Linked DNA regions of Homo sapiens. The protein of the gene in region 7 purifies or fractionates together with the protein of the main gene of each other region. This does not show direct contact. Each region holds a gene or a part of one and is shown on either strand. Other genes may lie near its edges.

The links.
Region 1: the proteins of CCDC183 (region 7) and CEP131 purify together in Homo sapiens (affinity purification with mass spectrometry; 3 studies listed by BioGRID and IntAct, with this or other methods). This does not show direct contact.
Region 2: the proteins of CCDC183 (region 7) and RUNDC1 purify together in Homo sapiens (affinity purification with mass spectrometry; 3 studies listed by BioGRID and IntAct, with this or other methods). This does not show direct contact.
Region 3: the proteins of CCDC183 (region 7) and NDEL1 purify together in Homo sapiens (affinity purification with mass spectrometry; 3 studies listed by BioGRID and IntAct, with this or other methods). This does not show direct contact.
Region 4: the proteins of CCDC183 (region 7) and CCDC14 purify together in Homo sapiens (affinity purification with mass spectrometry; 3 studies listed by BioGRID and IntAct, with this or other methods). This does not show direct contact.
Region 5: the proteins of CCDC183 (region 7) and DIAPH3 purify together in Homo sapiens (affinity purification with mass spectrometry; 3 studies listed by BioGRID and IntAct, with this or other methods). This does not show direct contact.
Region 6: the proteins of CCDC183 (region 7) and NDE1 purify together in Homo sapiens (affinity purification with mass spectrometry; 3 studies listed by BioGRID and IntAct, with this or other methods). This does not show direct contact.

The regions. Positions count from the first base shown.
Region 1 is NC_000017.11:81,202,466-81,205,965, reverse strand, and holds part of CEP131 (centrosomal protein of 131 kDa), read left to right. Parts: intron 1-2,358; coding exon 2,359-2,472; intron 2,473-3,500. UniProt on the Homo sapiens protein: Component of centriolar satellites contributing to the building of a complex and dynamic network required to regulate cilia/flagellum formation.
Region 2 is NC_000017.11:42,990,565-42,993,103, reverse strand, and holds part of RUNDC1 (RUN domain-containing protein 1), read right to left. Parts: intron 2,257-2,539; coding exon of another isoform or gene 2,254-2,256; coding exon 1,388-2,253; 3' UTR 1-1,387. UniProt on the Homo sapiens protein: May play a role as p53/TP53 inhibitor and thus may have oncogenic activity.
Region 3 is NC_000017.11:8,452,884-8,456,383, reverse strand, and holds part of NDEL1 (nuclear distribution protein nudE-like 1), read right to left. Parts: intron 1,589-3,500; coding exon 1,497-1,588; intron 1-1,496. UniProt on the Homo sapiens protein: Required for organization of the cellular microtubule array and microtubule anchoring at the centrosome. May regulate microtubule organization at least in part by targeting the microtubule severing protein KATNA1 to the centrosome.
Region 4 is NC_000003.12:123,954,730-123,958,229, forward strand, and holds part of CCDC14 (coiled-coil domain-containing protein 14), read right to left. Parts: exon of another isoform or gene 2,067-3,500; coding exon 2,011-2,066; exon of another isoform or gene 1,699-2,010; coding exon 1,626-1,698; exon of another isoform or gene 1,387-1,625; coding exon 1,317-1,386; exon of another isoform or gene 1,237-1,316; coding exon 1,114-1,236; exon of another isoform or gene 1-1,113. UniProt on the Homo sapiens protein: Negatively regulates centriole duplication. Negatively regulates CEP63 and CDK2 centrosomal localization.
Region 5 is NC_000013.11:60,153,929-60,157,428, forward strand, and holds part of DIAPH3 (protein diaphanous homolog 3), read right to left. Parts: intron 1-3,500. UniProt on the Homo sapiens protein: Actin nucleation and elongation factor required for the assembly of F-actin structures, such as actin cables and stress fibers. Required for cytokinesis, stress fiber formation and transcriptional activation of the serum response factor.
Region 6 is NC_000016.10:15,670,745-15,674,244, reverse strand, and holds part of NDE1 (nuclear distribution protein nudE homolog 1), read right to left. Parts: intron 1,837-3,500; exon of another isoform or gene 1,474-1,836; intron 1-1,473. UniProt on the Homo sapiens protein: Required for centrosome duplication and formation and function of the mitotic spindle. Essential for the development of the cerebral cortex.
Region 7 is NC_000009.12:136,795,120-136,799,137, reverse strand, and holds the start of CCDC183 (coiled-coil domain-containing protein 183), read right to left. Parts: upstream 2,801-4,018; 5' UTR 2,741-2,800; coding exon 2,671-2,740; intron 37-2,670; coding exon 1-36.

The DNA.
Region 1 (3,500 bases), on a different chromosome or scaffold from region 7:
CCAAAGTGCTGGGATTATAGGCGTGAGCCACTGCACCCAGCTCAATTCTTGCTTTTTAATTTATTTTTAAGTTAGAGGCAGGTTCTCATCTGTCACCCTGACTGGAGTCCACGATCATAGCTCACTGCAGCCTCTACCTCCTGGGCTCAAGAGATCCTCCCCCTTCAGCCTTCGGAGCAGCTGGGACCACAGGTGCACAACACCACTCCTGGCTAATTTTTAAATTTGTTGTAGAGATGAAGTCTCGCTGTGTTGCCCAGGCTGGTCTCAAACTCCTGGGCTCGGGCAATCCTCCTTCCTTGACCTCCCCAAAAGCCCTGGGATTACAGGTTTGAGCCCCCACACCTGGTCCTAAAATTTACCTTAGTATTTATCAGTTATATGTTCATACACAGCCAAAATGTCAAACAGCACCATAGGCTTAAAATGTGCTGCCCCTCCTACCCTCCCCACCCCTGCCCCTCCTACCTCCCCTCCCGCTGCCCCTCCTACCCCCGCGCCGCCCCTCCTACCCCCCCACCCCTCCTACCCCCATCCCGCTGCCCCTCCTACCCCCCACCCACTGCCCCGCTGCCCCTCCTACCCCACTGCTGCCCCTCCTACCCACACTCTTGCCGCCCCTCCTACCCCTGGCGCCTGCCCCTGAGGAGCAGCATCTTTTCAAGCTATTTCTTCTGGTGTTTTTTTGTTTGTTTGTTTTTGTTTTTGAGACGAAGTCTCGCTCTGTCGCCCAAGCCAGAGTGCAGTGGTGTGATCTCGGCTCACCGCAACCTCCGCTTCCCGGGTTCCAGTGATTCTCTTGCCTCAGCCTCCTGGGTAGCTGGGACTACAGGCGTGTGCCACCACACTAGGCTAATTTTTGTATTTTTAGTAGAGACGGGGTTTCGCTATGTTGGCCAGACTGGTCTCGAACCCCTAACCTTGTGATCCACCCGCCTCAGCCTCCCAAAGTGCTAGGATTATAGGTGTGAGCCACTGCGCCCGGCCATTTAGTGTTTTATTGAAAACATTTATGAATACATGCCATGCTGCTCATTCCTGAACAGCTCAAAATCAGTCCTGGTAGGTTATTCACACCACCCAAATTGGCAGATGAGCCGCGCTCCAAGAACCAGCTGTTGAACGTTTGTGAGTGCAGGCTGGTGCCAGGTGCAGGCCAGGCTGGTGCTGGGCGTGGGCTGGTGCCTGGTGCGGTCCGGTGCAGGTGTGGTCCGGTGCAGGTGTGGTCCGGTGCAGGTGCAGGCTGGTGCAGGTGTGGTCCGGTGCAGGTGCAGGCTGGTGCAGGAGCAGGTTTCGTGCATTGCTCTGCTCTCTGCTTATCCTCATTCCCATCATGTTCTGTTGGTTTGATTTTGGGCCTCTGACATGTTGGTCTTTGCCCAGATGTCTTGGTGGTTCTTGTTAAAAGGGAGGCCCTAGGAGTTAGCTGGAAGCCTATTGCCTGGTGGCTTCACTTCGGGGCACTGGTGCAGAGAGCAAGGCATTGTTGAGTATCCCCACCTACCAGTGTCTGTGGGACCCTCCTCACAGGCTGAGTCTCTCCAGAGACAAACCCCCAGCCCGCCCCAGGGTTCGAGTCCTGGCTGCCCGGTTGCACTGCTGGGGAGGGGTGGCGGTGGCTGTCCTGGGTGAATCACCCATCTCTGCCCCACCTGCAGGGCCAGCTGGGGAGGGCAGGGTGGATGCTAGCGGCTCAAGTGAGGGAAGGGGCTTTGCCGAGCAGCCAGATTCTCCCCTTTGCCTCAAAGCCTGTCCATGCCTGTGGGAGAACAGTGTGTCTCCGTGGGGGCACGGGACCTGCCAGCTCCTCGCCCTCCCTCCCCACAATGCCTGGACCCTCCCTTGTGTCCCAGTTGCTCTCTGCTGGCCCTTCTGTTTCTAATCCTCCAGGTCTGCAGATGCCCCTTTCCTGCAGTCTCCCCATCCCTCCTGTCAGCCTCGGTATTGGTCCTGTCCTCCCGCCTTCCTGCGGGTCTGCGGAGGGGCAGAGGCAGAGAATGTGGCTTCCATCCGTCGTGTGGGATGGGGCTTCGCTTCTGTGAGTCTGCTCTGGAAGCTGATTGTGAGCTGCTGGCCTGAGCTGCTCCCCCCGTCTTGGGCACGTCCAGCGTTCATGCCTCGATTCTATCCCCTGCCCCGTGGGAGCCCCTGGTCCAGCTTTCCTGTCCTGGGAAGAACCCCATCATCAGGGCGCAGGCTGTGGAAGGGGCCTGGGGACACTGGACGACAATGCTGCCAGCACGTAGCAAGCACTGAAGGCCTTTGTTCCCTCCCAGCCCGTGCTGCGAGTGTAGCTCTGAGATCTCAGGCGTCCCCTCCAGAGGCCTGACCATTCCTGTCTCTCTTCCGGCCTGGCAGGAGCAACAAGGGAGCAGTGGGCAACTGCGTCACCACCATGGTGCACAACCGCTACACCCCCTCGGAGAGGGCGCCTCCGCTCAAGAGCTCCAACCAGACTGCCCCCTCCCTCAAGTAAGGTCTTCTGGGGAGGCCGCGGGGCTGCGGGGTCCGACCTCAGTTAGGGCATGTAGTCAGTGCACCTGGGGTCCGACCTCGGTCAGGGCACGCGGTCAGTTCACACAGGGTTCTACCTTGGTCAGGGCATGCGGTCAGTGTGCATGGGGTCCAACCTCGGTCAGGGCACGTGGTCAGTGCACGTAAAACCGCGTGGAGCAGCTGTGAACCGGGCTCCCCATCCACGTCCGCCGCCCTCTTCTGTTCTTGGGTCGGCAGCTTCCCACAGAGAGAAAACAGCCCAGATGTGGCACAGTGAGGTCTGGGGCTCACCCTGAGGTGGGGCCCCCAGGAGGAAGCCAAGGCTTGTGCAGAGCCCAGAAGGCGTCACAGCGGGGGTGGACCGAGCGGGGCAAAGGAGCCCCCGAGTCCACCACCACATGGTCTTGCGGGGATTGGGGATGGCCTTGGGGTTGCTCAGGGGTCCCTCAGGCTCTGGACTCCTGTGACTTTTGGGAACTTTCTCAATGGAATTTTTTTTTTTTTTGAAATGGAGTTTCATTCTTGTTGCCCAGGCTGGAGTGCAGTGGCATGATCTCGGCTTACTGCAACCTCTGCCTCCCAGGTTCAAGCGATTCTCCTGCCTCAGCCTCCCGTGTAGCTGGGAGTACAGGTGCCCGCCACCATGCCGAGCGAATTTTTTTGTGTTTTTAGTAGAAATGGGGTTTCACCATGTTGGCAAGGCTGGTCTCGAACTCGTGACCTCAGGTGATCCGCCCGCTTTGGCCTCCCAAAGTGCTGGGATTACAGGTGTGAGCCAGGGCACCCAGCCTCTCAATGTAACTTTAGTGAGAAGTTTTTAAATGCAAAGAGCTCATTATCCTGGGTACCAGTGAGTGGGACCTTGTCAGGGCACAGGTGGTCCAGAGGCCAGGATGTGGCACGGGAGAGCCGGCCTCGCACCTGCCGCTGTCCCCCTCTGCCCCGGCTGCCAGCCTGCCAGCACCACTTCCAGGCTCAGTCCTGGGACTTCCGGGAGTGGGCAC
Region 2 (2,539 bases), on a different chromosome or scaffold from region 7:
GTGCTCAGTGAGTCACAACCTGAGGAACAGCTGCTGGTTACCGATTTGTATTCCTGTATATACTCGACTTGGGTAGCCAGGATTTTCTCGTTTGTCTTGAATATATTTACTTCTAAAAAGACTGTTAGTCTTGTTGGGAGGTGAGCAGAGGAATGTTTACTTGCTGGAGAACATAGTAACAAACATCACTTCTCACCCCTCATAAACAGAAAGCCCATTGTCTGTGCCATGAAAAGAGGACTACCTTGTCAGGAAGATTTTACTTACCTCTACAAGAAAAAGGACTCGTATTAAAATCGACCTGTGGTTACCACCCTTAGAAATGCTGTTTTCAGATATTCCTATTCCTAGTCTTAGAGGCAGCCATGGAATATATAGTCTCCTCTGACCTTGGGGTCAGGAAGAAAGGGAAATCTATTCATAAAAGGAATTTAAATTCTGGCCTAGGCCTCTCAAACCTGCTTCAAGTGAAAGAAGATAGCTTAACTAACAGGAGCCTCAAGTTGAATGTCTTTTTTTTTTTTTTTTTTTTTTTGAGATGGAGTCTCCCTGTGTTGCCCAGGCTGGAGTGCAATGGCATGATCTTGGCTTACTGCAGTCTCCACCTCTCGGGCTCAAGCGATTCTCCGGCCTCAGCCTCCTGAGTAGCTGGGATTACAGGCATGCACTACCCCGCCTAGCTAATTTTTGTATTTTTAGTAGAGATGGGGTTTCACCATGTTGGCCAGGCTGGTCTTGAACTCCTGACCTCAGGTGATCCGCCCACCTCAGCCTCCCAATGTGCTGAGATTACAGGCGTGAGCCACTGTGCCTGGCCTGATTCCTTTAATACAGGCTCAAGCACAAGTGCCCACACGTATACTGTGGGTACAACCTTCTTTTTTTTTTTGAGACGGAGTCTCACTCTGTCGCCCAGGCTGGAGTGCAGTGGCGCGATCTTGGCTCACTGCAAGCTCCGCCTCCTGGGTTCACGCCATTCTCCTGCCTCAGCCTCCCGAGTAGCTGGGACTACAGGTGCCTGCCACCATGTCCGACTAATTTTTTTGTATTTTTAGTAGAGATGGGGTTTCACCGTGTTAGACAGGATGGTCTCGAACTCCTGACCTTGTGATCCGCCCGCCTCGGCCTCCCAAAGTGCTGGGATTACAGGTGTGAGCCACCGCGCCCGGCCTGGCAGAACCTTCTTAACAAGAGGGTCCCTCCAGCACATCTTTCCGAGAGCTAAGTTGGTGGGGAAAACAGACTTTGCACTCATTTGGCCGACTGCCTGAGCAGGGTCTGGGAAAAATGCCTTTAACCCCACCTCTGATTCCTTGCTCCTATGCTAGAAGACTAGCACATCTATCCCTACTGAACAAGGAGCTTGTCTGGGGTTAGGGCACTCTCATCAAAAGGCATCTTTGATGTTTTTGAGCTGGCGCACAGCCAGATCTACAGGGAGGCTAAACTTGAGGCTGCTGAGGCGACTGAGCAGGTTGAGGGCACTCTCAAAGCCTGTGTGTGCCATGTAGCTCCAGGGCTGGTAGTGAGGCTCGATGAGTGACCCGGACTTGCAGATGAGGTTCACCCAGGACACCAGACGCTGCTCATTCAGTGCCATGCACACCAAGGCCTTCAATTCTGAGTCTGCACTGCGCTTAAAAGGGTCATGCTCTGTCAGCACCATGTGGATGGCTGTCAGTAGGCTCTGTTTGGGGGTGACAACAGTGCCTCCCGTAACAGGAAGGGCGAAGGACTGGGAGAGCTTCCGGGCTGGGGATTCCACATAAGCACGGCCGTTCTTAGCATGGTAGTACTTTACAAAGAGCTCCCACGGGTGCATGGCCTCTGGGGCCGAGGAGAAGGCTGGCAGCAAACAAGCAATAGGAGCCATAACAAGGCTCATCCCTGGGGAGGAGGCATACAGTCCATGGGCCAGCAGGTCCCTCACAGCCACCGTTAGCTCCTTCCGCACAGCCATAGTCAGCTCATCCTTGCCTCCCAGAGAGAGGTCCTGGAGGTTGGCAGAGGTGATGACATGGTCATGTGGCTGCTGCCTCAAGGCTAGCTGCTTCACTCTGTCCACTGACACCTCCAGCCTCTTCAGCAAGGGAGAGTAGTCTCTGTCAGCCTGGACCCTCTGCCACAGGGTTGGAGGGATCTGGCCTGTGGCACAACCAAACTGGCTAACAGCAAAGATCTGGAGCACGGCCAGCGCTCGCCGCATCAGGTGCAGCCCCGTCTCCCGGACTTTCTTCACATCCTCTGCCTTTGCTGCTTAGAAAAGACAGTGGCTCATCAGTGAGAGGCCATGATGGCACAGAGCTACACTCAACAAATCACAGGCTGAGATCAGTCTGAGCCACATGCTGGGTCTCACATGAAGGCAAGAGCCACCCAGGATGTAGCTGGACTTCCTTTTTCTGGTTAATAATAGCTGTATTGAGATATAATTCACATACCATATGATTCACCCATTTAAGGTGTTTAATTCAGTGGTTTTTAGTATATTCAGAATTGTATAACTGTCACTGCAATCAATTTTAGAATATTTCATCCT
Region 3 (3,500 bases), on a different chromosome or scaffold from region 7:
AGATAAACAGAAAAATAAGCACATGATTTCAAGTTATAAAGACAAATACTCCAACATAGAGGATTTTAAAATGGTTATCTTGGGAGTGAAGAAAGATTACTCTATGTACTGTAGGAACGACCTGTGCACTTTACTTTGTATTTTAACCTTAAAAATGCAGGTTTAATCTGATGGTTAGAAAATAACCCCTATGATGAGCTGAAACAGGCAAACATAGGACCTGTGTCTTGGCCTCCCATATCTGCTTTAGATAAAGTATAATGCAATTTCTACATTTTTTAGAAAGTGTCACACACGAAAATAAGTGAAGGGGGTAGTAGATAGTGGGAAATGGCAATGGTTGATTACTGAAAGGAGAGGTAAAACTCACTAAGGGAAATAGTAATGGGAGCTAATGCTAGAAATGCTGACTTGATAGTGGCATAAATCCACATGGTTCTGCAACTGTTTCCAGTAATTCAGACTGCAGATCTCCTTTGTGGCCAGAGAGACCATGAAGTCAACAGTGACAGAGTAAGAGATGTGTGAGATCACAGATGAATAGAAAGGAAGTGAAAGCAAGAGATGGCTGATAAAAACAAACACACTAAAAAATGGGGTAATACTCTTGATGAGGTTAAAGAGTAGGTATGGTACACAGTAACACACTGATTAAGCAGAAAAACGGGTTTAATTTTTTTTTTTTTTTTTTTTTTGAGATGGAGTCTTGCTGTCTGTTGCCCAGGCTGGAGTGCAGTGGCTCGATCTCGGCTCACTGCAACCTCCGCCTCCTGGGTTCAAGTGATTCTCTTGCCTCAGCCTCCCAAGTAGCTGGGATTACAGGCATCTGCCACCATGCCGACTAATTTTTGTATTTTTAGTAGAGACAGGGTTTCACCATGTTGGCCAGGCTGGTCTTGAACTCCTGACCTCAGGTGATCCACCCGCCTCAGCCTCCCAAAGTGCTGGGATTACAGGCGTGAGCCACCGCGTCCGGCTGGGTTTAATATTTCAGAAGCGAAACTGTTCTGGAATACAAGGCTCACACCAAGGAGAAGGCACTGAAGTTGAGGTGGCCAAGGAAATAAGGTGGGCAAGACTAAAAGTAGAGAGTAATGCCATGAGCCAAATGTTAAAGTCCCACAAACACAAAACAAAGGAATGACCAGGAAGACGGTAGACAGCAGCAAAGACCAGGATGAGGGTGGTAGAAGACACACAGCAGGCCTTAGACAAAGTATTCTAGACAAGGACAGAGGCATCGTGCTGTTGAAACAGGAGTGGGGAACAGGAAGAATGCCCCGGTGGGAACCTCAGAGTTCAAGGTACAGGCTCTTCTGCAGGGGCATCATGAAGTGTCATCTGGACTTGGCTAGTCAATGGATGCTTTTGCTTCTGAGCTTCATGACAGCCTTTACCACAGGAAAGTATCCTTTCTTTCTTCCCTCACTTCAAATTAAGAAATAATTCAATACCTTGTCAGTGGAAACACCTAGTGATAAATAATTGAAACTTACCCCTACTTTCCGTAAGAGATCCCCCACGATGTTTAGTGCTGATATCCTAGCAGAGGGAGTTAGTGGACTGGTACCAAAACCATTTGGTATAGCTAGAGAAAAATAAAAGCTGAGTGATTACACTTGCAGTTCCCTTTACATTTGGGTTTTGTTGTTGATGTTACAAAGTAGTGTAACACTCAATACAATATCAACAAACTACTTCAAACTATGGATAAAGTATAGATACCATAAATAGGCTAAACCACTGTCCAATTGGTGGATATTTACATTATATCAAATTTTTCGCCATTATAAGTAATGCTACAAGGACATATACTCTTAAACATCTAGACAAGTATTTCTGGAAAAGAGATTCCTAAAAATAGAACTGCTGGGTCAGAACATATGCCCATTTTTTTCACCTTAACAGACACTGCCAAAATGCTCTCTAAAAAGCCTGTGCTAATATCAGCAATCTATGCGGTGGTGCCCTTGATAATATTAGATATTATCTTTTTTTTTTTTGACAATTTGATAGTCACGTTTTTTAGTTTCTATTTCCATAGTAACTAGTCATTTGAATCTCTTCTGAAAATCAGCTGTTTAGTCTTTGTACATTTCTCTACTGGTTTGTCTTTCCTGTAATCAATTTGTAAGAACTCTATACATTCTGGATGTTCACCCTTTCTCTTATAGATGTTCTATCTCTCAGCGTGACATTCATCTTGTAAACACTGTGTTTCGGTAGGAGAACCTTTGGCTTTTCCATCTTAATGTCATAATGTTTCCCATACTTTCTCCTAGTATTTTTCTGATTTTTTTACATTTAGATCATTTAATTCACCTAGAAATTATAGTTGTCTATAAGATACATATCTAAATTTTTTCCTCCAAATGGAGAGCCAATTGTCCTAGTATCATTTAGGGAAAACTCATCTCATCTGAAATAGCACTATAACTATAAACTAAATTCCCTAAATATATGAATATATTTCAGTTCCATTGAACTATTAGCCTATTCTATCAGAAGTATGCTACTTTATTATAATGTTAAAATATATTTTGAGATCTCAAAAGGCAAAGATCCCTCTTGTTATTAGCCCATTTCAAATTTTTCTCAGCTGTTCTTGCACATTTACTATTCCAAAATAATTTTAATATCAACATATCAATTTTTTAAATCCTATTAGGATTTTTATTAGAAGTTGAAATTACAGATTGACTTGGGGAGAATGGATATTGTAAGAAAATTAAGTCTTCCCATTCAGAATCATAGTATTTACCATGATATTTACCCATATCTTCTTCCACACTCAGTAAGGTTTTCAGTCGTGCACATTTCTTAATTTTTAAGAGATAATATGACATCATGATTAACGGCTCTTGAGCTGAACTACTGTATTCAAATCCAGTTCAGCCACTGGGTAAGTGACCCATATGTAAGAGGGGGCAAATAACAACTACCTCATCATAAAGATGTTGTGAAGTTTAAATTAATGTACTTTAAAAATGCACGTAGTAAGTACTCAATAAAGGTTAGCTATTATTTTTTATGTTTGTTTTCCACAGAGTGCTAATCAGCAACGAAAATACTTGTGTGGCTTTTTTGTTGTTTATTATCCTTCTTCTCCTCAAGAATATAATCTCATTGAAGGTAGGGGCTTTGTCTTACCACTGTGCTCCCAGCATCCAGAATAACACATGACACATAACAGGCGCTCAACGTGATATAAAAAACCGCTGTACTGTTCTTGGCAGGGATTTCTAGATCTCATTTTTCCCTATTCAAGTTTTACATTTTAGGTGTTATTAAATCTGTGCTTTTATGGTAAGTTGCTTTAAATGCTTTTTAGAAACAAACATTGTAGGCTGGGCATGGTGGCTCATGCCTGTACTCTCAGCACTTTGGGAGGCTGAGGTGGGTGGATCACCTGAGGTCAGGAGTTTGAGACTGGCCTGACCAACATGGTGAAACCCCATTTCTACTAAAAATACAAAATTAGCTGGGTGTGGTGGCACACA
Region 4 (3,500 bases), on a different chromosome or scaffold from region 7:
AGGTTCACATGCCCAAGTTATTCCAAACATACTTAAAAGTTTTATAATAACTGGATCAATTATCAGTTTTCTAATTTAATTTTAAATTAAATTAAATTAAATAACATTAAAATTCAATTCCTTGGTTGTACTAGTCACATTTCAAGTGCTGAATAGCCACATGTGGCCAGTGGCTACCATCTTGAATAGCACAGGTCAAGATAATATAAAGCTATCATTACTGGCCTCCAAGATGAGTTAGGTTTCCCTTGCCTTAGTTCTCTACCTTGGGACTATCTGAAACATCAACCTCTAGTCCCATGAATGCTCTACTGACACTTTCTCAGCCTCCTTGCTTAAATCCTGATCTCTTTATAGGGCTACTGCTTTATATGACTTTCTAAACTTCATTCCTTGCCCAAGCTGAATCTAAGCACGTACTACAGTGCTGACATTTCTGGCCCACCTGAACTATAGAACTGGCTAGTCTAATTCTAGTCCATCTGAATTCCCACTGTGGACTTTTTCATCTTCATTTTGGGCTATCTTGTTTTCTAGGCCTCCAAGGGACAACATAATCAAAACTTTCTTGTTCTAAACTAGGAAAAGTTAGCCGTGAGGGTGTAAAGTACCCTTGGCTATACTCACCACCAATCAGCAGCAGCCTTTCCTTATTCATCCGATTTTACCTTCCTATGTACCATGTATCCTAACTGTGTAGCTTGACAAGTTCAGCTTGACCAACTTAGGATATATATATATATAAATATAATAATTTTAAAGCAACTACTAGAAGTATACACTTGAAATACAACCAATTTATGATTATCTATGAAAACAAGTGGCAGGGGAAACTAAGATCACTCTATATACCTCCCAAATGTCATTCTGAGTTTGAACTTTTTCTCCTACAAAACCCTGACAGTCTCTTTTTCTATTTTTCTTCTTGAGAAAATGATAGCAAGCAAAGTGGACTACTCAGTGATTAGAAGCTGAATACAGAAAGGCATAAGCACACATAAACCTAACTAATACTGATTATTAAAATGAAAATCAACTGTATAATCCTGATAATTGATCAAAATACCCACAATTAAGGATTATCTTTAAATAACTAAGAGAAAAAAGGCTTACATGTTTCTTTCTGGACTACCAAAGGAATAGTATGTTTTTCATGTCTTTTCTTTTTTGATCCGTATCTTTTGCTTTCTAAAGGTCTAGAATTAGATCTGTTTTCTAAATATGCTGTTTCTGAACCTATTAATAAAACAAAAATTTGTTACATCAAAATAATGACTTGAGATAAGGTGATCAGCAAAGAATTAAAAAAAAAAAACCTGAATCTTCATTTCTCAAAATGTCCCTCAGCAAAGAAGCACAACCATCAAGCCCGTGTACAGTTTCAGCCTGTAAGAAATAAAGTCATTTAGAATACATTTGTATATGACTGTTAGTGTAGGAAAAAATATAAATTATGTAGTTTTAAAATTTGTTTATTTACAAACTATTATTGGTAGAAAAGATGTTTTAAAGCAACAGACTTCATACTTCCTTAGAGCAATTAATACTTTGCATTTTATTCCTACTTTTTAGCTACTATTTGAAAACTAATTAAAATAGTGTGTATTGTATCTATTCAATCTTACCTGACTTTCTGAATCAGAATGGATGGAATAGCCAGAATCTGCATTAAAACGTGGTATTTTTCTTAAATAGGTCCTGGAAAACAAGCTTATTAATATTCTTACAAATATTTTTCCCAAAATATATTAGTAAGTAGTCATTTTCTTTCCAGCAAAGACAAGAAAGCTTGTCCAACCATGTACAAGATGAATTTATAAACACATTCTGAAGATCAGAAAGACTGTTAAATACTAAAATGATTAACATGGGTAGACATGAAAAATTGTTCCTCAGAGCTTGTGATGGTAGAGGCCTACCTAATTTTCTGGGGTAGACGACATGTCATCCAGCCCAAAGACCTGAAAAATTCCTTGAAATCTGAAGTTGTAAACGTCTTCAAGTACTTACGCTTTCTTTCCATTTGTTAATTTAGCAGGTCCAGTGTGCCTTCCTGAAGATAACACCTATGACATAATATATTATAGCAGATAAACAAATATTTTTCTATTATATTTTCAATATGCTATCTTGACAAAATTTAATGTCATTTTTTTCTTTTATTCATCTTCTCAAACTGAAACTCTGCATCCATTAAACAATACCTTTCCATCCCCTCTTCTCCCTGACCCTAGCAACTATCATCCTAGTTTCTATGAATTTGACTAGTCTAGAAACTTTATATAACTGAAATAATACAATATTTGTTCTTTTGTGACTGGCTTATTTCACTTAGCATAATGTCTTCAAGCTTCATCTATATTGTAGCATGTGTCAAAATTTTTCTTCCTTTTTGAGGTCAAATATATTCCATTATATGTATGTACCACATTATTCACTGTTTTAATTAATGTGATATATCCTAAAAATACACAATTATAATTTAATTCATATATTAAATTTCTTTTATGTAAAACGTCAAGCAAACTACACATATATTTGTTCCTTAAGTCTATTTAAGGTGAAAAGGAAATTGAGATACTATTTTAAACCAGAAGTAACTACTACACTAAGTTCAGACTATATTAATCCCAAAATATGTTCTATAGTCCCAAATTCTTTGAAACATGCAAGTTAATTCATGATATAGGACAGAGTTCTTAACTCTGGTTCCTTTTATGTACATTCTTTAGAATGCCTGATTAGACCAGGAAGTGAGAACTCTACCCTGTCTCTTTATCTACATCTCACTGTCTTAATTTTTCTTTTTAAATTCATATACCACTGTTGTTTTCTTAAACTTTTTTGTTTTAAAAGTGACAATAATGGACAACCTTTTGTGTAGAAAAACAGGAAAAAATAAGCATTTGCTTTTACATGCATCCAGTATCTTGGGAGTTATGCCAGAAACAGTTAATCATGGTTGCCTCTGGGGAGGGAAACAGAGTATCTGGGGGACAGAGCGAGAAGGGACACTTTCCATGGTATACTATTTTATATCTTAATAATTTTATATCAGATAAATATAATCTTTATTCAAAATAATTTTAAATAGACATGAGAAAGTCCCTGATTCCCCCCCTAGTTCCACCCTCCAGATGTAGTCACTGTTGGCAGTTTTATTTATAATTTCTCTTCACATATTTAATTTCATCTCCAGATAGCTTTGAGCTGTAACTACCAAACTTTCTAAAGTTATACGGCATTCTATTATATGCTTGAATATGTGCTCCATCCTTCTAAGAATGTCACTGAGAATACATTTTTTAAAAACTGGGTTGGTAAGAGTTATACGTCTTGAGATAACTTGGATTATGATGGAGGGTCATGAAGCCAGCAGTGAGAACCAACAATGTAGGAAATAAGACCTTGTATAACATCACACCACTGGTCTCTGCATCACACTCTCAGGGTCCTTCCCTTTGGTATATTTATGTCGATGTCTTGGCTGGAATCATAAT
Region 5 (3,500 bases), on a different chromosome or scaffold from region 7:
CCTATTATCCCCACTTTAGACATAAAGAACAGGCCCCTAAGAAAGCTTCAGAAACTTGCTCTGACCATTCAGTCATCAGATCAGAACTCTGCATCAATCCAAATGTTACCTGGTATGCCAGGATAAGAACTAAGAACAGAATGGCTCTGCCTCCAGCACACCAAGAGGAAATAGCCTGGTTCAATTAAGTTTTCCAAGATTAGAAAGCTTTTCAAATATCCAATGTATTCCTAATGCCCTAAAGTGTAGGCAAAAATTGTACTATTATTACTGTTACTACTAATGATAACAAAAACAACAATCCTATAAATGGCAAATATTTCCATAGAGGTTACAATGAGCCAGGTATTCTAGGCCCAAAACATAACTTTTAATCTTCATGACAACCCCATGTTACACATGAGAAAGGGGAGGCACAGAGAACGGTTAAGTAATTGCTCAGTTCACACAGCTAATAAGTGATATTGCTGGGATTCAACCCCTGAGAGTGGTTCAAGTCACTGCTCATAAATGTTACTCATAACGCTTCTTCTACAAAAAACTGTAAGAAAAGATAGCAGTGGGTCTTTTGAAGAATAAAATCTATGGCAAGCATTTCCAAATAGATTTCACTAAGTAACTAGTAACATGAATGTTTCAGGACCAAAGCTTATTTAAACTCTTAAATTCTCCCCTAAGTTAATAAAGACTATTCAATTTGCTATTTGAGAAAAATTACTCCCAATGGTAAGGTATTTCAATGCCATCCTGCTGCTACTGAAAGAAAAGTTACCTTTGTAGATCCTGTTCAAAGAAAGCCCATGCTTTGATCCTTAATATCCCATGAAGTAAAAGGTTATGCTTAATCTATATTTTATAGATCTAAAAGTCAAATTAGTTTCTGAGATAAACAAGCAAGAGTGTAAGGATAAGCATATTCTTTAGCATTCATTTGATTCCTAGTTTAGAGGATACTATGTGCTAAGTTAAAGACAATTACATTAGTGTAATACGTAGCAGTTTTTTCCTGTATTATTCTGCAGCATAAACAAGTTAGACACATGTTAATTTACATTCTATATAAAAAGCCAATTTTAAATCCAATTTATAAGGCAATAAATATATAAAGATTCTAGGACACAGCAATAAAGTTACGCCATAAAGTAGAGTTAATTCAAGACAACAATAATAAAAGCATGACAAATTTTAGCATTCCACCAACTGCACAAAGGTGTTTCAGGTAACATCTGTTCAGAAGCAATTGCTACAAGATAGACTAGATGAGATGCAAGGTTTCACCATGTAATAAATGTATGTCAGTTTGCTTGCTTCATAATTAAAGACATGAGTCTTTGAAAAAAGCAATTAAGCCCTGTTCTAAATCTGAGACAATCATCCCTATCTCTACCCCCACCCCTTTTTACCGTCAAAGAAAAGACCCAGAGTGGTCCAGGAGTATTAAATGCCATATGTTATCTACTTTCAGCAACTAAATGTATCCCCCAAAAAGCCACTTAATATATATTGTTTCTTTTGATAAATCATTTATTTAAAAAAATTTCTGGGTTTTTCTGTTTTATTAAGAAGGATAGAAAGGAAAGAATGGCTGGGAAAATTCAGAGCAATTTCTTAGAACAGCAGCCTGAATAAAATGATTTTACCTCCTTCTGAAGCTTACAATGCCTGGTGTGTGTTAGGTAGAATTCTGACACGAATAAAATTTAGGTGCCTAAAGCTTTCAACTAAAAACAGTATCTCAATTCTTGACAGTTTAACCCTAGGACAACTGAGAGCATCACTTAAGCTGAGAACTCAATGAAGGAACAAGTTCAAAAAATCAAAAAGAGCATTTAGATATCACCTCCATCTTTTCCCAGCTTCCTAGAAACTATAAATACAGAGTAGACAAAACATGAATGGAGGTTTTGGTTGTTATTCCAGTGGTGGTTTATTTTTCTATTGTAATTTGGTTATCGTCTGTCCTCCCAAATTACAAACAAACCCTCTGAAATAAAGTGAAGGCAGAGATTTAAATGAATCTGATGGTCCTCCTTGTAACTATACCTAGCTTCATTTCCTATGGCAGGTGTAACACATTACCACAAACTGGCAGCTTAAAACAACAGAAATTCATTCTCTCAGTTCTGGAGGCCTGAAGTCCCAAATCAGTTTCACTGTGCCAAAATGAAGGCAGGCTGCTCTCCTTCTAGAAGCTCTAGGGGAGTAGCCTTCCTTGACTCTTCCAGCTTCAGATGGCTGCATTACCAATCTCTGCCTCTGCAGTCACAACACTCTCTCCTCTTCTGTGGTCAAATAACAATACATGTGTTTGCATTTAGGGGCCACTGTGATAATCCAGAATAATCTCATTTTAAAATCCTTAATCATCTGTGTAAAGTCCTTTAAAAAAGAAAACAGGAGAAAAGGCATACAAAGGTATTATGTGCAAGTGTGGCAAGTGTGGAGTCATACAAAGTATGAAACTCAAACAAGGGCCAGATGGCTAAATCTTAAATACCCTCTTCATAGGGAAGAGGGAAGTGGGGTATGTAAGGCAATTTACAGGATGAGTAAATAATCTTTAGGGGGGATGAATGGGCCCAAAGAAGAGATGAAAGTCTGAGACAAAGTTTATCTGGGCTTGGTGTGGTGTCAACTCCAATCTTCCTTCAGTATACATCTATTTGACTTGAGATGTCTGGGAAAGAGATTCACAAGTTGAATATCTTCTGGAGGATACAACCTTTAGGTAGATAGGGGAACTTCAGAGAAGACCCTTTCTTGCATTTCTGGCTCCCCAGGTTCTCTCGATTTGAAGTCCAAAGTGGCATATTTGGGGGTATAATTTTCTGAGCCCTAACAATGCTTTCTTTCTCAGATTAGTATCATAAGCTCCAAACAGAAGTTGCTTAAATAAGTGCGTTTTCTTTTTCTCCCAGTACAAGATGTCTGGTGGCAGGTAAGTTCCCAGGTTAACCTAACCTATAGTGGCCCAGAGACCCAGATCCTTCATATATATATATATATATATATTTTTTTTTTTTTTTTTTTTGAGACAGAGGAGTCTCACTCTGTCACCCAGGCTGGAGTGCAGTGGCACAATCTCGTCTCACTGCAACCTTTGCCTCCCAGATTCAAGCGATTCTCCTGACTCAGCCTCCGGAGTAGGTGGGATTACAGGCGCCCACTGCCACGTCTGGCTAATTTTGGTATTTTTAGTAGAGACGGGGTTTCACCATGTTGGCCAGGCTGTCATCGAACTCCTGGCCTCAAGTGATCCGCCTGCCTTGGCCTCCCAAAGTGCTGGGATTACAGGCATGCACCACCGTACCCAACCCCTTCCTATATTCTTGCTCTGCCATATGTAGCGCAGTACATGGGCCTTGTCTTCAGGCTAGCTATCCTCATGACCAGAAGACTATGGCAAAATAAGCATCACATCCTGACTATGGCCAAAGGCAAAAAATGGGCTATTGCTTCTTGTTAGCCTTTTTCTTTCAGATGTTGTATTTTTCAATGCT
Region 6 (3,500 bases), on a different chromosome or scaffold from region 7:
CTAAGACAGAAGGGAGGGAGAAGATGGAGGAAGGGAAAGGGAGAGAAAAGGAGAGGAGAGAGACAGAGAGGGAGATCTTGTTAATTACCAAAGAAACAGTCCAGCGCACTTCTCAATGATTCCCTGTTGCCAGCTGCAGCAATAACATCCATTACATACTTATTCTGTGCTGGCCTCCAGGCTAAGTACACTTCCTATGTTGTCTCGTTTAATTCCACTTCAGAGACATGAACACTGAGACTCAATTACTTAACTAGCCCAGAATCAACCAGTAGCAAATGACTGGGCCAAGACCAAACCCCAGCCTCCTGAGCAGGTGTCCTTAAGCAATTATGCTAACCAGCCCTAAACCATCTCAATCCAGATCACCTGCCCGTTCCCGTGCTCTCTCGATTCTATTCCTGCTCTGCTTCCAAATTACTTTCCTTCACCAAACACCCAGAGCCAGGTGCGGTGCCTCATGCCGCAATCCCAGCACCTCAGGTGGCAGAGGCATATTAGCCTAGGCAACATAGGAAGACTCCATCTCTACAGAAAATTTAAGAACAGCCAGGCGTGGTGGCATGCACCTGCAGTCCTAGCTATGGGGGAGGCTGAGGTGGGAGGACTGCTTGAGGCCAGGAGGTTGAGGCTCCAGTAAACTATGATCATGCCACTGCACTCTAGCCCAGGCCAACGCTTAAAAAAAAAAAAAAAATCACCAGCCTGGGGCAACATGGCGAAACCAAAATACAAAAATTAGCCCGGCATAGTGGTGCACGGCTGTAGTTCCAGCTACTTGGGAGGCCAAGGCGGGCAGATCACTTGAGGTCAGGAGTTTGAGAACAGCCTGGCCAACACGGTGAAACCCCCGTCTCTACCAAAAATACAAAAAATAGCTGGGTGTGGTGGCAAGTGCCTATGGTCCCAGCTACCCGGGAGGCAGGGGAATCGCTTGAGCCCGGGAGGCGGAGGTTGCAGTGAGCCAAGATTGTGCCCCTGCACTCCAGCTTGGGTGACAGAGACCCCATCTCAAAAAAAAATCAAAACCGAAAACACAAAACACCCATCCTAGATTCTACAAACATAAGAGAAAACACTTCCCACAAGAAAGGCGCAAGGTCTAATTTAAAAGTTAAAAAAGGCCAACTTCTCTTTACTCAATCAAGTAAACAAAGCCGTTGCTAGAAAGTCCGGATGCACCCAGGGTGATGTAATGGTGCCTAGGCCAGAGAGGCGTGGCGAGAGCCATTGTGCAAGAAGACTCCAAAGAAAGAACAAACAGATGATTTACAGCGTTGGAAGGATGAGGAGGGCGGACCACATCCCTGCTGCCGCCCGCAGCACCCTCCCCATTTCCTGGCTGTAAGCAGAGAAGTATCTGCACCCAGCAAGTAGAGGCAGACCAGGCCCTGTTCCCAGGCGTGGCTCTCATCGCCTCACACCCTTTATTTGGGAACATCTCCAAATAAAACAGGATCTTAAGTCATTAACCTAAATTCAAACGCAGGCTCCAGGAGGACGCAGCGAGTGGGCTCCACCGACTGCACTGGCGATTGAGAGATCTCCTCGGAACCTGTGGACATGAAAACCTGTTGCTGAAATGTTGTGCTGCCATTTGGGGCTAATTCGAATAAGCTGTCAGCTGATGGGGGCATCAATAGATGCTCTGTTTGGTCCCTTAAAGGCTTTTTCATTCAACCCGTGATGAATAAGCCAGTTGTTAAGAAGTCCGGCCCAGCTGAATATATTTCTCTTAGGTGACTGACAAATACTTGCTGGTGGCAGGGTCCTCGTTATTCCAAGGTACCCTGTTTCTTCACTGTGCTGTGTGCTCTGAGTCTCCTGCATCTGACATGTGGCTGCAGTACAGTGGCGCAATCTCAGCTCACTGCAACCTCCACCTCCTAGGTTCAAGCAATTCTCCTGCCTCAGCCCCCGAGTAGCTGGGACTACAGGTGTGCGCCACCATGCCCAGCTAATTTTTTTATTTTTAGTAGAGACGGGGTTTCACCATGTTAGCGAGGACAGTCTCAATCTCTTGACCTCATGATCCGCCCGCCTCGGTCTCCCAAAGTGCTGGCATTACAGGCATCAGCCACCACGCCAGGCCCAAGAGCTCAGTCTTGAAGCAGAGAATTACTGAGTAATTCTCTTGATATTTTACTCAGGATCCATGGAGGGCCTGTTATCCTCTCCAAACTGCAGTTCATACCACTAATCTTCCTCCTACCCAGCTTTTCAACCCAGAGTCCCCTTCAATTTAGGAACTATAATCAGCCAGGCGCAGTGGCTCACACCTGTAATCCCAGCACTTTGAGAGGCCGAGGCAGGCGGATCACTTGAGCTCAGGAGTCCCAGACTAGCATGGGCACATGAACCCGTCTCTACAAAAAATAACAAAAATTAGCCAGGCGTGGTGTGGCAGGTGCCTGTAATCTCAGCTACTTGGGAGGCTGAGGTGGGAGGATCACTTAAGCCTGGAAGTCAGAGGTTGCAGTGAGCTGAGATCACACCACTGCACTCCAGCCTGGGTGACAGGGGGAGACTCTGTCTCCAACAGCAAAAACAACAACAACAAAAAGAACGATAATCATTGCTCATTGTGTGTAGCAGGTGTTCAGCTGTTAACAAATGGGTGAAGTGGGCCAAGTACAGGGAGAGGCAGATGACACTAAGGTCTCCGTGTCACGGATATGGGGATTGGGGGAAACTCAACAATGTGTGTTCTAAACAACCACTACTCAGGTTTTTTATTTTTTAACTTTTGCTCTGTCACCCAGGATGGAGTGCAATGGTACAATCATAGCTCACTGCAGCCTCAACCTCCTGGGCTCAAGCAATGCTCCTGCCTCAGCCTCTTGAGTAGCTTAGACTACAGGTGTGCACTACCATGTCCAATGAATTTTTTATTTTTATTTTTTTGTAGAGACAGAGTCTCGCTATGTTGCCCAGGCTGGCCTTGAACTCCTGGTCTCAAGCAATTCTCCCTCCTCAGCCTCTCAAAGGGCTGGGATTACAAGTATGAACCACCATGCCTGGCCAGAAATCCATCTTTTTACAGGAAGCTTTACAAATTTTGATGGATGGGGGAATATATATAATAAAAGGCAAGTAAGTAGGGGAAATATTATTGGTAGAGCCTAGGTGGTGGTGGATACACAGGTATTCACTGGAAATTCTTTCAGCCTTATATGCTGGAAAACGTTCATGGGGAAATGCTGAACAAAAACCCCTGAAGGCGATCAAACAACACCTATGGGGCAGATGGATCTGCAGACGGCCAGCTGCACTCTGTGGTCTCCAACAGAAAGCTTCAGCTTCAATGACCACCTTCAACGTGTCTGGGACCTCTCCTCCGCCCTGCCCCAAACCCCCAATCCATTTGTTGGTCCCACACCCTTTCCTATACATTAGTAAAGCTGGGCTTGCCAAGGTCCACCCGACACCCATTCTTGTCCACGTCTGTGATGGGTACAGATCAACTCTCCTTCAGCCCCATCTCCCCAAGCACCAAGTGT
Region 7 (4,018 bases):
CTTTCACCCCTTGGATCTGGAGTGCCCGACACTGCTCTGTGGGCAGGTGGAGGGGACACAGTGGCTAGGATTGGGCCAAGGGCCTGGCCTGGAATCCCCTGGGGGAGGCTTGCATCAGGGAGGCCCCAGGCCCCAGGGTCCAGGGGGATGCCCCCTCCATGGCCAAGATCCCTCCTCCCGCCCTGTCCTGGGGGACACCGCTCCACTGCCCAGCAGCAGCTGTCTGAAGGGCTCTCAGTGGACAGGTGCGGGGAGGTGGACAGGTGGGGAGGGTGAGGCAAAGGAGAGGGATGGCAGGGTCCTGTGGTCCCGTCCAGATTTGCTGCCCATGGAAGCAGGTGGGTGTTTTCCTGTCCATTCTGGCTTTGGGGCCCGTGTTGCTCTTATGCTCACGTCTCCTTGAAGCCCCTCTCTCTGATTTAGTCCCTCCATGCAGGTCCCTTTGATCCCTTCTCCCAGCTCTGTCAGGGAGTGGGCAGTAGGGGGGTCTGTTTTCCCCTCCATGTCCTGGATTGTCCCTGTATTAAAACTAAAAGTCCTAGGCCAGGAGCGGTGGCTCACACCTGTAATCCCAGCACTTTGGGAGGCCGAAGTGGGCGGATCACCTGTGGTCAGGAGTTCGAGACCAGCCTGGCCAACATGGTGAAACCCCATCTCTACTAAAAATACAAAACTAGCTGGGTGTGGTGGTGTGTGCCTGTAGTCCCAGCTACTCAGGAGGCTGAGGCAGAATTGTTTGAACCCAGGAGGTGGAGGTTGCAGTGAGCTGAGATTGCACCACTGCACTCCACCTGGACGACAGAATGAGACTCTGTCTCAAAAAAATAAATAAGCTAGGCGCCGGTGGCTCATGCCTGTAATCCCAGCACTTTGGGAGGCCGAGGCGGATGGATCACCTGAGGTCAGGAGTTTGAGACCAGCCTGGCCAAGATGGGTAAACCCCGTCTCTACTAAAAATACAAAAATTAGCTGGGCGTGGTGGTGGGCACCTGTAATCCCAGCTACTCGGGAGGCTGAGGCAGGAGAATCACTTGAACCCGGGAGGTGGAGGTTGCAGTGTGCTGAGATTGCACCATTGCACTCCAGCCTGGGTGACAGAGCGAGACTGCGTCTCAAAATAAATAAATAAATAAAAATACAAATACGAAAATTAGCTGAGTGTGGTGGCGTACACCTGATGTCCCAACTAATCAAGAGGCTGAGCCAGGAGAATCGCTCGAACCCGGGAGGTGGAGGTTGCAGTGAGCCGAGATCATGCCACTGCACTCGAGCCTGCGTGACAGAGCGAGACTCTGTCTCCAAACAAACATCCCCTAAAAGTGAAGGGGGCCTGCCCCTCCACACCTGCGGGTATTTCTCGTCAGGTGGGATGAAGACTGAGAAAAGAAATAAGACACAGAGGCTGGGCATGGTGGCTCACGCCTGTAATCCCAGCACTTTGGGAGGCTGATGCGGGCAGATCACGAGGTCAGGTGATCGAGACCATCCTGGCTAACACGGTGAAACCGCATCTCTACTAAAAATACAAAAAATTAGCCGGGCATGGTGGTGGGTGCCTGTAGTCCCAGCTACTTGGGAGGCTGAGGCAGGAGAATGACGTGAACCCAGGAGGTGGAGCTTGCAGTGAGCCGAGATCGCGCCACTGCACTGCCGTCTGGGCAACAGAGCAAGACTCCATCTCATAAAAAAAAAAAAAAAAGACACAAAGTATAGAGAAAGAACAGTGGGCCCAGGGGACTGGCACACTCAGCATGCGAGGACCTGCACCAGCCCTGGTCTCTGAGTTCCCTCAGTATTTACTGATCATTATTTTTACTATCTTGGTGAGGGGAGTGTAGCAGGGCAACAGGTGGTGAGAACGTCAGCAGGGAAACATGTGAGCAAAGGAATCTTTATCATGAATAAGTTCAAGGAAAGGTACTATGCCCAGATGTGCACGTAGGCCAGATTTGTTTCACGTTACACAAACATCTCAGTGTAGCAAAGAGTAACAGAGCAGTATTGCTGCCAGCATATCTTGCCTCTAGCCACAGAGCGGTTTTCTCCTATCTTAGAATAGAACGAATGGGAATGGTCGGCTTTACACTGAGACATTCCATTCCCAGGGACGAGCAGGAGACAGATGCCTTCCTCTTATCTCAACTGCAAAGAGGCCTCCCTCTTTCACTACTCCTCAGCACAGACCCTTTACTGGTGTCGGGCTGGGGGATGGTAAGATCTTTCCTTTCCCACGAGGCCATATCTCAGGCTGTCTCAGTGGGGGGAAACCTTGGACAATTCCCAGGCTTTCCTGGGCAGAGGTCCCTGCGGCTTTCTGCAGTGCACTGTGTCCCTGGTTAATCAAGAATGGAGGATGGGGATGACTTTTACCAAGCATACTGCCTGCAAACACATTGTTAACAAAGCACATCCTGCACGGCCCTAAATGCATTAATCTTTGATTCAATACAGCACATGTTTCTGTGAGCACAGAGTTGGGGCTAAAGTTACAGGTTAATAGCATCTCAAAGCAGAAACAATTTTTCTTAGTACAGATCAAAATGGAGTTTCTTATGTCTTCCTTTTCTACATAGACAGTAACAATCTGATCTCTCTTTTCCCCACAAAAAGTTGTGCACCCAGAAACCCCCAGACGGGAAAGGGAGACTGGTCACGGCGGTGCAGGCTCACCCTGGAGCTGAGTGATGGTCTTCAGCTCCTGGGTCTGCTCTTCCACATCTGTCTCACTGTGCCTCCTCATGGCTGCTCTCAGGCCCCCCAAGGGACCCTGTGTACCTCAAAGCCTCCCTGGGCTCAGCTTGCTCAGAGCCGCCACTCAGATTGTCCCCAGAACCTCAGCCCATTATGATGAGAGCCAGGATTCTCAGTGCCTGGGCAACCCTGGAATTGCAGGGCCTCCTGCCTCACTCTGCCCCCAGCCACCTTGGGGTGGCCTCCAGACATGTGTCCTAATTGAAATGAGTCTCCTGGCAGCTGCTCGAGGCTTAGGAGCTCTGCCGGGCGGATGTGCTTTCTTTGAGGGGGAGGTTTGTGATGGGTCTGCAGCACCGGCAGCTCACACCTGCACTGGGTTCCCTCCCTGGCCCCTCCCATGCCCCAAGCCATCCTCCACAAAGCAGCAGGCCGAGCCTCCTAAAACGATTCTGATACTATTCTGATACTGCCTTACGGGACCTCCCTCTGCACCCCCCACCCCCAGCCCCAAGTCCAAACTCCATGCACTGGGTAACCTGGCTCTTGGGACACCCCCACCTTATCTCTTCTGACTTCTGTCCCTGACCTCTCTGTGCTGTCTGGAGCCCACCCTGCTTCACCCCCACTTTCCTTTGGGAATTACTGGGTCTTGGGTTCATGTGTCACTCCAGAAAGGGTATGTTCTCCATCTCTGCACCCCCTCCACCCTTCCCTTAGAGGGGAGTACCTGGAGCACCAGGCAGCCTGGAACTCTGTGGGGTATGCACGAGATGGGGTACACACGAGATGGGGTACTTTTTCCCAGCCTTGCCTTAGTAGGCTCAGGCGGCCATAACAAGGTGCCACTGGCCAGGTGTGGAGGCTCACGCCTGTAATCCCAGCACTTTGGGAGGCTGAGGTGGGTGGGTCACCTGAGGTCAGGAGTTCAAGACCAGTCTGGTCAACATGGTGAAACCCCGTTTCTACTAAAAATACAAAAATTAGCCCAGTGTGGTGGTGGGCGCCTGTCCCAGCTACTTGGGAAGCCGAGGCAGGAGAATTGCTTGAATCCAGGAGGTGGAGGTTGCAGTGAGCTGAGATCGCGTCACTGCACTCCAGCCTGCGTGACAGAGTAAGACTCCATCTCAAAAAAACAAAAAACAAAAAAACAAAAAAACAAGGCGCCACCGACTGGGGGATGTGAACAGCAGCCTGGAGGCTGGGGGCTGAGATCACGGGTCAGCAGGGCTGGTGTCTCCTGAGGCCCCTCTCCTTGGCTTGCAGATGCTGTCTTCTCTGTGTCCTCACGTGGCCGTCCCTCTGTGTGTCTGTGTCCTAATTTCCT